Linked DNA regions of Homo sapiens. The protein of the gene in region 1 purifies or fractionates together with the protein of each later gene. This does not show direct contact. Each region holds a gene or a part of one and is shown on either strand. Other genes may lie near its edges.

What was found.
Region 2: the proteins of DHX40 (region 1) and PPIL4 purify together in Homo sapiens (co-immunoprecipitation; 2 studies listed by BioGRID and IntAct, with this or other methods). This does not show direct contact.

What each region holds. Positions count from the first base shown.
Region 1 is NC_000017.11:59,560,764-59,568,781, forward strand, and holds the start of DHX40 (probable ATP-dependent RNA helicase DHX40), read left to right. Parts: upstream 1-4,846; 5' UTR 4,847-4,908; coding exon 4,909-5,020; intron 5,021-5,863; coding exon 5,864-6,031; intron 6,032-8,018. UniProt on the Homo sapiens protein: Probable ATP-dependent RNA helicase.
Region 2 is NC_000006.12:149,503,717-149,508,059, forward strand, and holds the end of PPIL4 (peptidyl-prolyl cis-trans isomerase-like 4), read right to left. Parts: intron 1,989-4,343; coding exon 1,737-1,988; 3' UTR 779-1,736; downstream 1-778. UniProt on the Homo sapiens protein: PPIases accelerate the folding of proteins. It catalyzes the cis-trans isomerization of proline imidic peptide bonds in oligopeptides.

The DNA.
Region 1 (8,018 bases):
ATGGAGAAGGGAATGGTCCACACTTGAGAATGGTTTATCTCCTTGAATTCCTTCCATTAGAATTTTCTTTCTTTCTTTTTTCTTTCTTTCCTTTTTTCTGAAACAGGGTCTCACTCTGTCACCCAGGCTGGTGTGCAGTGGCACCATCACAGCTCACACTGCAGTCTTGTCCTCCTGGGCTCAAGTGATCCCCCTGCCTCAGCCTCCCAAGTAGCTGGGAATACAGGCATGCACCTCCATGCCTGGCTAATTTTTGTATTTTTTGTAGAGATGAGTCTTGAGATGGGGTCTCACTATGTTGCGCAGGCTGGTCTCAAACTCCTGGTGTCAAGTAATCCTTCTGCCTTGGCCTCCCATCGTGTTGGGATTACAGGCATGAACCACCACATCTGGCCCCATTAGAACTTTCTAACAAAAGATGATCTTTCTCCTGCCCCCTAGAGGGCTGTTTATCCCTTCTGTCAGTCCTTCCTTTCTCATTATATCCTCTCCACTCTCTGCCCTCTGCCTAGGCCCAGCCTTATCCATCTGAGAGAGGAAGTAACCAGTAATTTGAGCATGCACAGAAGGCTCTGATTTGGGACCTCATGTCAGCAGTGTCTTTGGATTTTTGTTTCTGCTTTGTTGAGGGCTGAACAGGAAGATAGGCCCATGGGTTACCAGTGAGATAGAAAAAGGGGAGGAAAATACAGAGAAACAATCGGATTCACATTTTGGGATACAAATCCACCACAAATGCAAGTTTATAATACCTATGTGGGCTAAAAGTTTGTTCTCTCTCCTCCAGTCCTTTATCTTTCCTCAAAATGTGAACTTGGTATTTCTCCCTCATCAGTATCAGTTTCAACTCTCCTAAACAAATCTTCTAATTGTACCCCAATACTTTCATTGACCAAGTCTTCTCTTAATCACCACATACACACTGTAGTAGCGGCATCTTTTTCCAGCTATTCTTTTCTCTCCCTTTCATTTACCCTAGTTGATTCTAACCAGCCATCCCCAAGTGTATTAGGTACATTTTCAGTTTGCTCGCGAATTCTCATTTACTCACAATATGGCTTCTGTCTGCTTCCCTTTACCAAGACAAGTCTTGTTTTGGTCCAATTAATGAGCTTTTAAAAAATCCATGTAGCTTGATACCATTGCTCACTCCTTCTGTGAACAATTAGGTTCTGTTATTAATTAGGTTTGTACATATCACCATTTTTCTAGCATTTTAAACTTTCTGGTTCTGACTGTAATAATATCTTTGATAATTTTCCTTTTTTTTTTTTTTTGCTTTATTTACTCCTTTTAACCATCACAACAGTGGTCCTATACTTTTCTTTCTTTCCTGAAGATGATTTTAAAATTCCATTCCATTTTTGTAAATCTGTAATGTTGAGTCTCTTTTGGATGCTCTGAAACAGGTTGCTTGGATTGTGGAATATTTTGAAAGACTGCTTATGAGGCAATAGCAGCAGGGTGCAATTCAGACTTCTCACACTTCTTTAAATACCAGTTCTTTCAGGAGTTTTTTTTTTTTTTTGAGACAGAGTCTCACTCTGTTGTCCAGGCTGGAGTGCAGTGGTGAGATCTTGGCTCACTGCAACCACCACCTCCCGGGTTCAAGAGATTCTCCTCCATCAGCCTCCTAAGTAGCCGGGATTACAGGTGGCTACTACCACCCTAGGCTAATTTTTTGTATTTTTAGTAGAGATGGGGTTTCACCATGTTGGCCAGGCTGGTCTCAAACTCTCAACCTCAGGTGATCTGGCCACCTCAGTCTCCCAAAGTCCTGGGATTACAGGCCTGGTCTCAGGTTTTTAATGTAACCCAAAGATAAGAAATAGATTCAATGTCGTTAGGGACACTGACCTTTCTTCCCAGATTCAACCCATTTATTTTCTATTTTTACTCTGTACTTGAGTTTTGTTTGTCATTGTAATTTGTAAACTCACTGGGTAGGAAATAATTGTTGATCTTCTAATTTAGAATAGCCCCAAGCACATGGTTATCATGGTAACATGCTTTAAATGTCCTTGGTTATAAAATGAACAATGTTAAACATCACTTGAATTTTTCACTTTTATTTTTCTTCATTCTTTGCTTGCAGGTTTTATATTCTATACTCTCAATAGGTGGTTCTCATACAAGAATGGGGTCAGTTCTATTAGAGTTACAAACATTGGAAGAAAATACATTATTTTGGTACCAAAATCTAAATACTTCCATCTCCCAATGCAGTTTAGTGGTTATTAGTGTGACTTTGAATCTTGGCCCTCTTAGTTCTTTGTTTTGTCACCACAGGCAAGTTTCTAACACAAAAATTAGGGATAGTAATAACCTAACTGTATGAGTTTTTGTGAAAAATAGAGGAAATAATTTACAGTTGAAACCTGAACAAGGTGGGGTTAGGAGCACGAGCCTTTTGCACTGTAAAAATCTGCATATAACTCTTTTCTTTTTTTTTCTTGGAGACAGAGTCTCGCTGTCACCCAGGCTGGAGTGCAGTGGCGCGATCTTGGCTCACCCCAACTTCCGCCTCCCAGGTTCAAGTGGTTCTTCTGCCTCAGCCTCCCGAATAGCTAGGACTACAGGCACGCACCACCACACCCAGCTAATTTTTTTGTATTTTTAGGAGAGATGGGGTTTTGCCATGTTGCCCAGGCTGGTCTTGAACTCCTGAACTCAGGCAATCTGCCCACCTTGGCCTCCCAAAGTGCTAGGATTACAGGTGTGAGCCACTGCATTGGGCCAAAATCTGTATTACTTGACTCCCCAGAGCTTAACTGTTAATACCAACTATTGCCTGGAAGCCTTACCAATAACATAAACAGTTAATTAATACGTATTTTGTATATGTATTATATACTGTATTCTTAAAGCAAGCTAGAGAAAATAAAACATTAAGAAAATCATAAGAGAAAATATATTTACTATTCATTAAGTTTAAGTGGATCATCATAAAGGTTTCCATCCTGTTCAGTAGGCTGAAGAGAAGGAGGAGGAAGACAAAGGGTTGATCTTGCTATCTCCAGCTTAGCAGGTGCAGAAGAAAAAATCTGCCTACAAGTGGACCTGCGAAGTTCAAACCAGTATTGTTCAAGGGTCAACTGTATCAGAAAGATTTGACTACTATGAGCTAAGTGGTAATCATCATTGGTCTGAAATGATGATTTTTAGAAAGTGACTTTATTATATCACTGATAGAGATGCCCTATACTGAAATACTGAGATTACCAATACCTTGCCTGTACCACAAATGTATTTTTGCCATTTTGCTTTCTGTTTCTATAATATTTTGAATTCCTAACATGATCCAGAAGGCTGGGAGATGCTCCTAATGAAAGAGAGAAACCTGGAATGTTCTCCTATTTACCAGATTGCTTCCTCTCATACCCAGGTTTTGAGATATAAAGTTGTTACAAAGTTCCAACTTATTTGGTATCATTCAAAATCTGATGAGCTTGCATTTTAAGAAGTGTTGATCAGTTCCATTTAAAAGCAGTTGGTATGAGTTCACTTTATTTTTTGAGGTGGAATCTCGCTCTGTTGCCCAGGCTGGAGTGCAGTGGCATGATCTTGGCTCACTGCAACCCCTGCCTCCTAGGTTCAAGCGATTCTCCTGCCTCAGCCTCCCGAGTAGCTGGGATTATAGGCGCGTGCTACCACACCCGGCTAATTTTTTTTATTTTTTTATTTTTAATAGAGACGGGGTTTCACCATATTGGCCAGGCCGGTCTCGAACTCCTGATCTCAAGTGATTCATCTGTCCTGGCCCCCCAAGGTGCTGGCATTACAGGCATGAGCCACCATGCATGGCCATGACTTCACTTCAAATGAGCACAGAAAAATCTGGGGGCCCAACAACCTTATGGTACATCTTTTGAAGCCTGGTCAGACAAGAGGGTCTTTAGGTGATGGTGAAGTGACAGTTTTGAGTTGTCTTCTTTGGTAGTAAGTGTTGGCTAATTCTAACAGCAGGAACAATTGAGGAGTCCAACAAACAATCTTGTTCACATTGCAATGATTTTGTTACAGTTGACACTAATTTAAAAATTGGCAGGCTCTAGACCAGAAAGACCTGCCCCCAAAGTACCTTTTCTGAAAAAGTTGCCCTGCCTCAGATGCTGTGTATCTGTTGAACTTTTCAGCTACTGTGGTTTCCAAGGAATGCACCTCTATCAAAAATGAGCTTAATTCCTAAGGAAGTCAATTATTATTCCTCCATTCCAGCAAAGTCAACAAATATTGACAGCCCACCTTGAATCACTGTGCTGGGCCCTGGATGTAGCAGTGTTTTAATATTTCGACTCTTGTGGGGGGGGGCTTTACAATCTAGCTGGGCAGAAGAGGAAACATGCAAATAAATTAAAATGCAGGGTCCTATGAGGGAAATGAACAGCCTTGGTGACCTAAGTTTTGATAATAACATAACTAAAAGTTCGGCTCCACAACTCAGTAGCTGTGTGCCTTGGACAGGTCATATCAGATTAGGAAAGGTGAGAATGAGTTGAGGAACGCAGCACTCTGGGATCATGGTTCCAGCTCCGGGCAGAGGGTTACATCGTGTCAAGTGTGTGAAGGCAGAATAGCCTGCAGAGACCACTGTGGCGTTGAAAAGAGGTGTCGTCGCGACCTTCGGCGCCGGAGAGGCGAAACAAGAGGGGGTCTTCGGGCCCTCAGGTATGGCTCAGCCGCCCAAGGCGAAGCGCACGTGGCAGTTGGCGGGAAATCCCTGGGGGGTGGAGCCTCGGCTCGAGGTCCGGCCGCCCCGTACCACGTCATCGAGCAGCTCCCCCTCCCCTTGCTACAAGTCGCACGCGCGGAAGTAAACACCTCTACGTCATCAGGGCGCGTCCTCGTCTTTCCCCTCCCATCTCCTCAGATCGGTGGACGTGCTCGCCTCCACTCGGGGCCAGGTCTATGTCCCGGTTTCCCGCAGTCGCGGGCAGGGCGCCAAGGCGGCAGGAGGAGGGTGAGCGGTCAAGAGACCTCCAGGAAGAGCGGCTCTCGGCTGTTTGCATCGCCGATAGAGGTGCGGTCCGCGGGACGGTACGGAAGCCAGCGGGAGTTACGGCGTGGGGGTTTTGGTGGGGGGATGAAAGTACGCCTTTGGCAGGCTGAGAAGAGTAGTGAGGAAGCCGTGGCGTTCTCCTGGCTTTCCAAGCCCGAGGCGAACTTTGCGTCCAATGAGCACTTTGCCTTAGAGGGGGGCGGTCCCAGATTCAAGTTAGGCGAAAACCTTACTGGGGGGCGAAAAAGTGAACCCCAACGCCCGAAATGCATTCTGTTCTTAAACAGGCTCATAGACCCTTTGTTCTCTACCCATTCATCCCCCCCACCCTTCGTCGGGCCGCCAGCCTGCCTTTGGGTACAGTATGAAGGGAGCCAGTTTCCAGGAGCCAGTTTCCATGGTTACCCACCACTTGGCCTTCTGGGATATCAGTCGCTCTGAACAGGGACCTAACTTGAACCATGAATCAGAAGCAAACACAGGTGGCTTCTAATCCAGCTGAGAATTTTCTGCTGTGTTCCAGTTTTTGGTCTATTGTTAAATAAAATTGAGTTTTGTGCTTCTGTGTAAGTATGCATGTGTATACGTTGCCTTGAGCTATACTTGCTTTGAAAAGTACTTTGAGTTATGCGTGAACAAATGCTCAAGTTGCTGGATTTCACCAAAAAGTTGTTCTGGGCTCATTAACCCTCACTTACAAATTGCGCTCATTAACGCTCACTTACATGAGCGATTTAACTGAGAAGTCATGGATGATCCCGTCCAGCCCTAAAATTCTATTGCCTTTCTGGTTTTAGTCATGAGAAATTGAGTCAGAGATATCTTTACAAGTCTTTTAATTGACTTGTTTTTCTGTTATTACAGAAGAGAAAGGATGCACGTCCCAGGAGGGAGGAACTACTCCAACTTTTCCTATTCAGAAACAAAGAAAAAAGATTATTCAAGCTGTGAGGGACAATTCATTCCTTATTGTTACTGGAAATACAGGAAGTGGTAAAACAACTCAACTCCCAAAATATCTATATGAAGCAGGTGATTTTTTTCTGTTGTAATAATTGGAAATATTTTAAAAATATCCTCTTTTTAAAGGCCAGTAGGACTTCTGTACTCCATGATTGCCCAGTATTTGCTTTATAGTCCCGCTTCTCTTGGCACACCCCCTTCCCCTATGTCTCCTTTGCTTCTTTATGGTCTATTTCAGGTTCAAGAATTAGTTGGGATGGCAAATTTTCCCATTTTTAATTACCATAATAATCTCAAATAGAATTACATCTAGATATTCCATTTTATAGAATAAAGTTGTCTAGCAGTAGACTATTAACCATTGGATACTGAAATAATTTTGAGGGGTAAGAGATATGTGATATCTGTTGCTGCCATTAGTACTTCTTGGTTCTTTCTCTAGAGCATTATCAGGTAAATATTTATCCCCTGACTTTGCCAGCGCAAGCCAACTAACAAATTACCTTTAAAATACGTTAAGTAAAGTTAATAGGAGGCCTTTGGTTTGGACTGATCCCCCGCACTAGACCCAACAGACCAAACCAAAATGGAGTTACTCATACTGAAGTTCCACGCCACCAAGTCTAGAAACTAAATTTTTCATCTACTGAGAAATCAGGAGAAAGAGATAATAGCCAAATCCCCAAACAGACCAGTTTTAGGAGCATCAAGAAGTTTCCTCTGCTTTAACTTTGACAAGAAAAGTAACTTTGAAATGAGCAATCTGCTTTTTGTTTTCTGTTTCTGCTTTCCTCAGCCCTTTTCTGTCTATACAATCAGCCTCCTCTGCTCAGCTCATTGGAACACTGATTCTATTTTATGAGACGATGGGTTGATGTGATTCCAGAGTTAGAATCACAAAAGCCAATTAAAAAGTTTTGGCTGGGCACAGTGGCTCACGCCTGTAATCCCAGCACTTTGGGAGCCCGAGGTGGGCGGATCATGAGGTCAGGAGATCGGGACCATCATGGCTAACACAGTGAAACCCTGTCTCTACTAAAAATAGAAAAAAAAAAAATTCGCCGGGCGTGGTGGTGGGCGCTTGTAGTCCCAGCTACTCGGGAGGCTGAGGCAGGAGAATGGCATGAATCTGGGAGGCGGAGCTTGCAGTGAGCCGAGATCGTGCCACTGTACTCCAGCCTGGGAGACAGAGTGAGACTCCGTCTCCAAAAAAAAAAAAATTTTTTAGGCCGGGCGCAGTGGCTCAAGCCTGTAATCCCAGCACTTTGGGAGGCCAGGGCAGGTGGATCATGAGGTCAGCAGTTCGAGACCAGCCTGGCCAACATGGTGAAACCCGTCTATACTAAAAATACAAAAATTAGGCGTGGTGGCGGGCGCCTATAATCCCAGCTACTTGGGAGGCTGAGGCGGGAGAATCACTTGAACCCAGGAGGCAGAGGTTGCAGTGAGCTGAGACCGTGCTGTTGCACTCCAGTCTGGGCAACAGAGTGAGACTCTGTGTCAAAAAAAATAAATAAAAATAAAATAAATTTGTTGTAATTTTGTTTTTTGACAAGTGTCATTCAGTATGACAGAACTTTCTGTCATAAGGTTTGTAAAGAGCAGTATTATATTGGATATGATTTGCCTTAAAAAATAACAAATGTATTATTCTAATGCTTCAATCTAAGGTGCCATCTATTAAGATATATCACTATTTTATGTGCAGTAATCCCTTCTTATCCTTGGGAGATGCCTTCTAAGACCACTCAATGCCTGAAACTGCCAATAATACCAAACCCTGCATATACTATGTGTTTTCCTATACATACATACATACTTTTGATAAAGTTTAGTTTATAAATTAGGCATAGTAAGAAATTAACAACAACAACAATAAAATAGAGCAGTTATGACAATATACTGTAGTAAAACTTTTGTAAATGTGGTCTCTCTCTGTCTCTCAAAGTACTGTAACATTTTTGGACCTCCACTGACTGTAGGTAACTGAAAAATTGGAAAGCAAAACCAAAGGTAAAGAGGGACTACTGTATTAGTAAGAATGGAAATGCGCCAT
Region 2 (4,343 bases), on another chromosome or scaffold:
ATTATTCAGAACGGTATTACCTTCGTAGTGGGTCAAATTAGCCCTAAACTAAAGGCTGTCCCAGTCCTGTCTTATTAAGCTTAAAAGCAAGCTATAAAATGATCGGATTGTTTCCAAGTAACTTTATGTCCCCAAACAGAGTTCAAGATACTTAAAAGAACTCCAGCACCCAATATTAAAAACAGAAATTACCAGGCATGTAATGAAGGAAGTTACAATCCAATATGGGCAGGGTGGGGGTTGGGGTAGGGTGGGAATCAATCAATAGAAACAGACCAGAAATGATGCAGATGACAGAATGGGCAAGCACACTGAAAGAGCTATTATCAATACACTCCAGATGTTGAAAAAAAAAAAAATAGAGGAAGGCATGAGCATGTGAAGGAGACACATGGGAGATAAAGACCCAGACAGAAATTCTAAAGACTAAAAATATGTCGGAGGTGAAAAATACCTGGATACGATTAAAAGGAAATTAGATACTTTAGACAGAAAGATTAATAAACAATGAGGACACAGCACTGGAAAGTACCCAACATGAAACACAGAGAGAAAAAGGCTTTTTAAAAAGCTGCACAGAATCAGCACACTGGGAGAAAATTCTGAGGGGCCTAACGTACATCCAAGTCATCAGAGCCCCAGGAGAAGCATGAGAGGAGCAGAGAGAAAACCATAACAGAAGAAAAAATGCCCCCCAATTTCCAAATTCTATGAAAACCATAAACCCACAGGTAAAATAGCTGCAGCAGCAGAAACGTGAAAAAAAAACTACAGCAAGCACATCATAATCAAACTTCTTACAACCAGTGACAGAAAACCTTAAAAGCAGCCAGGAAAAAAATGACATCTTACACATGGAAGAGCAGAGATAACAGTAATCTTGCTGGAAATCACAGGTAGATACCACTTAACATCCACTAGGTTGGCAAATTTTTAAGTCTGAACTTAAGTGTTGGAGATGCTATGAAACAAAGGTAACTCACAGTGCCAAGAGAGGTATAAACTAGTACAGTCACTTCAGAACACAAATTTGGCATTATTTTATCAATATATCAAGCAATATAACTGCTAGATACAATGTTCACAGCAGCATTGTTTCAACAGCAAAAACAAATAAACAAAACTCAAATGTCCATCAAGAATGAATAAGTTGTAGTATATTTATATAATACTATATAGCAATAAAAATGAAAGAAAGTCACAGAAGTAAACATTTTGCCATTTATATAAAATTCAGAAACATACAAAATTAACATTTCACTTACAGATACATACGTATGTTGTAAAACTATAATAGACAAATGACAAACACAAAATTCCAAATAATTATTTGAGAGGGAGAGGGCCTTAGGGAACTTCTAAAATGTCGACAACATCTGTATCTTAAGCTGGCTGATGAGTACACAGATATTTACATTTATTATCCCTTTATATATACGTTTATGTATTTTTGTAGTATGAAATACTTCATTAAAAAAAGAGTGAAAATGTAAGACTTCAAAAATGAAGACTACCATTTATGTATAACAATAAAATTAGTGTAAAAAAGTATACAAAGAAAATGTTCAATTCTTTATCTTTCCGTGCTCTATATAATCAGTATTAATCTAAAGACCATAATCCTAGTATGAAAAAAATAACAAGCTTTGACACAAAATCTAAGCATCTGCTTTCCTGGCACTCTTAAGTTAGACAAGAGTAAATATGTTAGCCTCTCAATTCTGCCTCTTCATCTTTCATCTATACTTAGATTTTTCTTTATCTTTGGACTTCTTTGGACTTCTGCTTCGGTCTCTCTTTTTACTCCTTTCTCTTTCATAAAGATCTGTTTGGTATTTTGATTTATGACTATTACTATAATGGCCATCCCTCTCTCGAGATCGGCTACGACTTCGGTTCTGAGTTCGGTCTCTCTTTTCACTCTTTTGTTTCTCCCAACAGCTTTCTTCTTCTTCATAGTGACCAAACCCCATTTCTCTATAGATATCCTGTCAAAGGAAGGGGGAATTACAAGTGAATCAGTAAAATAATCATTTTGTGGGCATTTTCAATTAATAAAACTTAGAAAAGTCTACCATTAGAAGGCTGTTATAACAGCTTAAATGTGAACACTACCACTAATGTCAAGAATCTTGTAAATTACAAAGCAATAAAATAATTCAGAAAAAGGTTTAACAACGTCATTGATTTGTATCTACTATTTTGGCTGAAACGAAGGATCAGCTTCAAAAATATGGAACTGAAATAGCTCAACTGAAATCAGAACATGTCTCTAGAGCAATCTGCAAAATCAAAAATTCTGATTATGTATAGTCTTATTCCCAGCTCCCCACCCTTCACTCCCCCAAAACGTGGTCCCATTATTGATCTGCAATGAAACTACTAAAATTCCCATAAGAATCCTATAAGAAGATATCATTGAAATAACTTAGCAGGAAGAGATCTTAGACAAGTCAGTAAGTCTTAAATAAGAAAATGGAGGCTGGATGCGGTGGCTCACGTCTGTAATCCCAGCACTTTGGGAGGTTGAGGTGGATGGATCACCTGAGGTCAGGAGTTCAAGACCAGCCTGACCAACATGGAGAAACTCTACTAAAAATACAAAATTAGCCAGGTGTGGGGACGCATGCCTGTAATCCCAGCTACTCGGGAGGCTGAGGCAGGAGAATTGCTTGAACCTGGGAGGCAGAGGTTGCGGTGAGCCAAGATTGCCCCACTGCACTCCAGCCTGGGCAACAAGAGCGAAACTCCATCTCGAAAAAAGAAAATGGATAATGTATACTTGGGTCTGAGCAATTAATTTTTAAAGTGTTTTATTTTATAACAGCTCCTCTCTAGATGTTCAAATACATCTTCCATGTTTAGAAAGACAGAAGTTAGAGAGGAGAATTTTTTTTGAGACAAGGTCTTGCTGTCTCCCAGGCAGGAATGCAGTGGCACGATCATGGCTCACTGTAGCTTCAACCTCCCAGGCTCAACCGATCCTTCCCACCTCAGTCTCCTAAGTAGCTGAGACCACAGGCATGTGCCATCACACCTGGCTAATTTTTGTATTTTTTTGTAGAGACGGGGTTTCCCCATGTTGCCCAGGGTGGTCTCAAACTCCTGGGTTCAAGTGATCCCCTCCCACCTCGGCCTCCCAAAGTACTGGGATTACAGGCATGAGCCACCTCACTCAGCTGATTAGGCTTATGTCAAAATTATTATATTTCTTTAAAATGAGTTTTTAAACACTGGTAGAATCCTTTGCCCCAAAGATAATAAAATTGCTACATTTAATTCTACTCTTAGACCACAGCCAATGCTCTTTCAAGAGATACTTTGTAAAATTTAACTTTCTTAAGACTGCCCAAAGGAAAGGAAAATTCTAAGGACTAAACTCCCAAGGGTCTCAACTCTATCACCAGATACCACTGTAGCAGACATAAATGTCAAGGCTTAAAATTCAGAGTGATGAATACCCATGGTTAAGGACTGGGTTTTAAGCAAATTATTAGTTATTCCATATACTGTCTAGATACTGTACACCTTGAGTTTGACAGTGTGTGAAAACAGATGTAACAGGATTGTTATAGTAATAATCACACTGTGTAATACAGTATTATAAACTGATTTGTGATTTTCCACACAATCCCAATAGTTCTTGTCATATTATAAGAGTCCCTGAGGTAGAAAAAATGAGTAGGCATTTTGGTTTAGCCTTTTGCCATCAATTTTCTAGTAAAATATGACATTCTGAGATAAAAGAATTTTTGTGCTTCCTATAACATATACAAAATAGAAATATTCATATACTATTATATCTGTACATCTTGTACTTATTTCTGTATTGGTTGAGACAAACTTTTAAAATGCCGAGACTGCTGGCTGATGTATAAATTTATAAAATCCTCAGTATGTTATTATACAAATGGGCACTTAAGTGCTTTGAGTATTTAAAATAGAAGAGATAAAAGATTATGTAGCACTTCATTCTTTTAAAAATTTGAGGAAGCTGAATATTTGAATTGGACTGAAACTTTAAAATCACTCCTACTCGGGAGTAGTTTTCAAAGCTACACAAGCTTTGAAGTCAGGTAGATCTGGGTTCAAATAGTCTTTGACATTTAGGAGATGTGTCAAACAAGTACTCTTAAGGTTAGAATAATTAGAGAAGGTTTCATGGAGAAGTTAGGATTTCAGATGAGCCTCAAAGGGTAAGTGAGCTTGGGTCTGAATGGGCTGCAAGAAGGCTAATGAAAGTAGTGTAAGTGAAAACTGAAAAGCAAGGAAAAATGAGCCCTGTATGTATGAAGGGGAAAAGTTAAAGTGGCTGAATGAAGCCATGTAAGAGGAGATCCTCC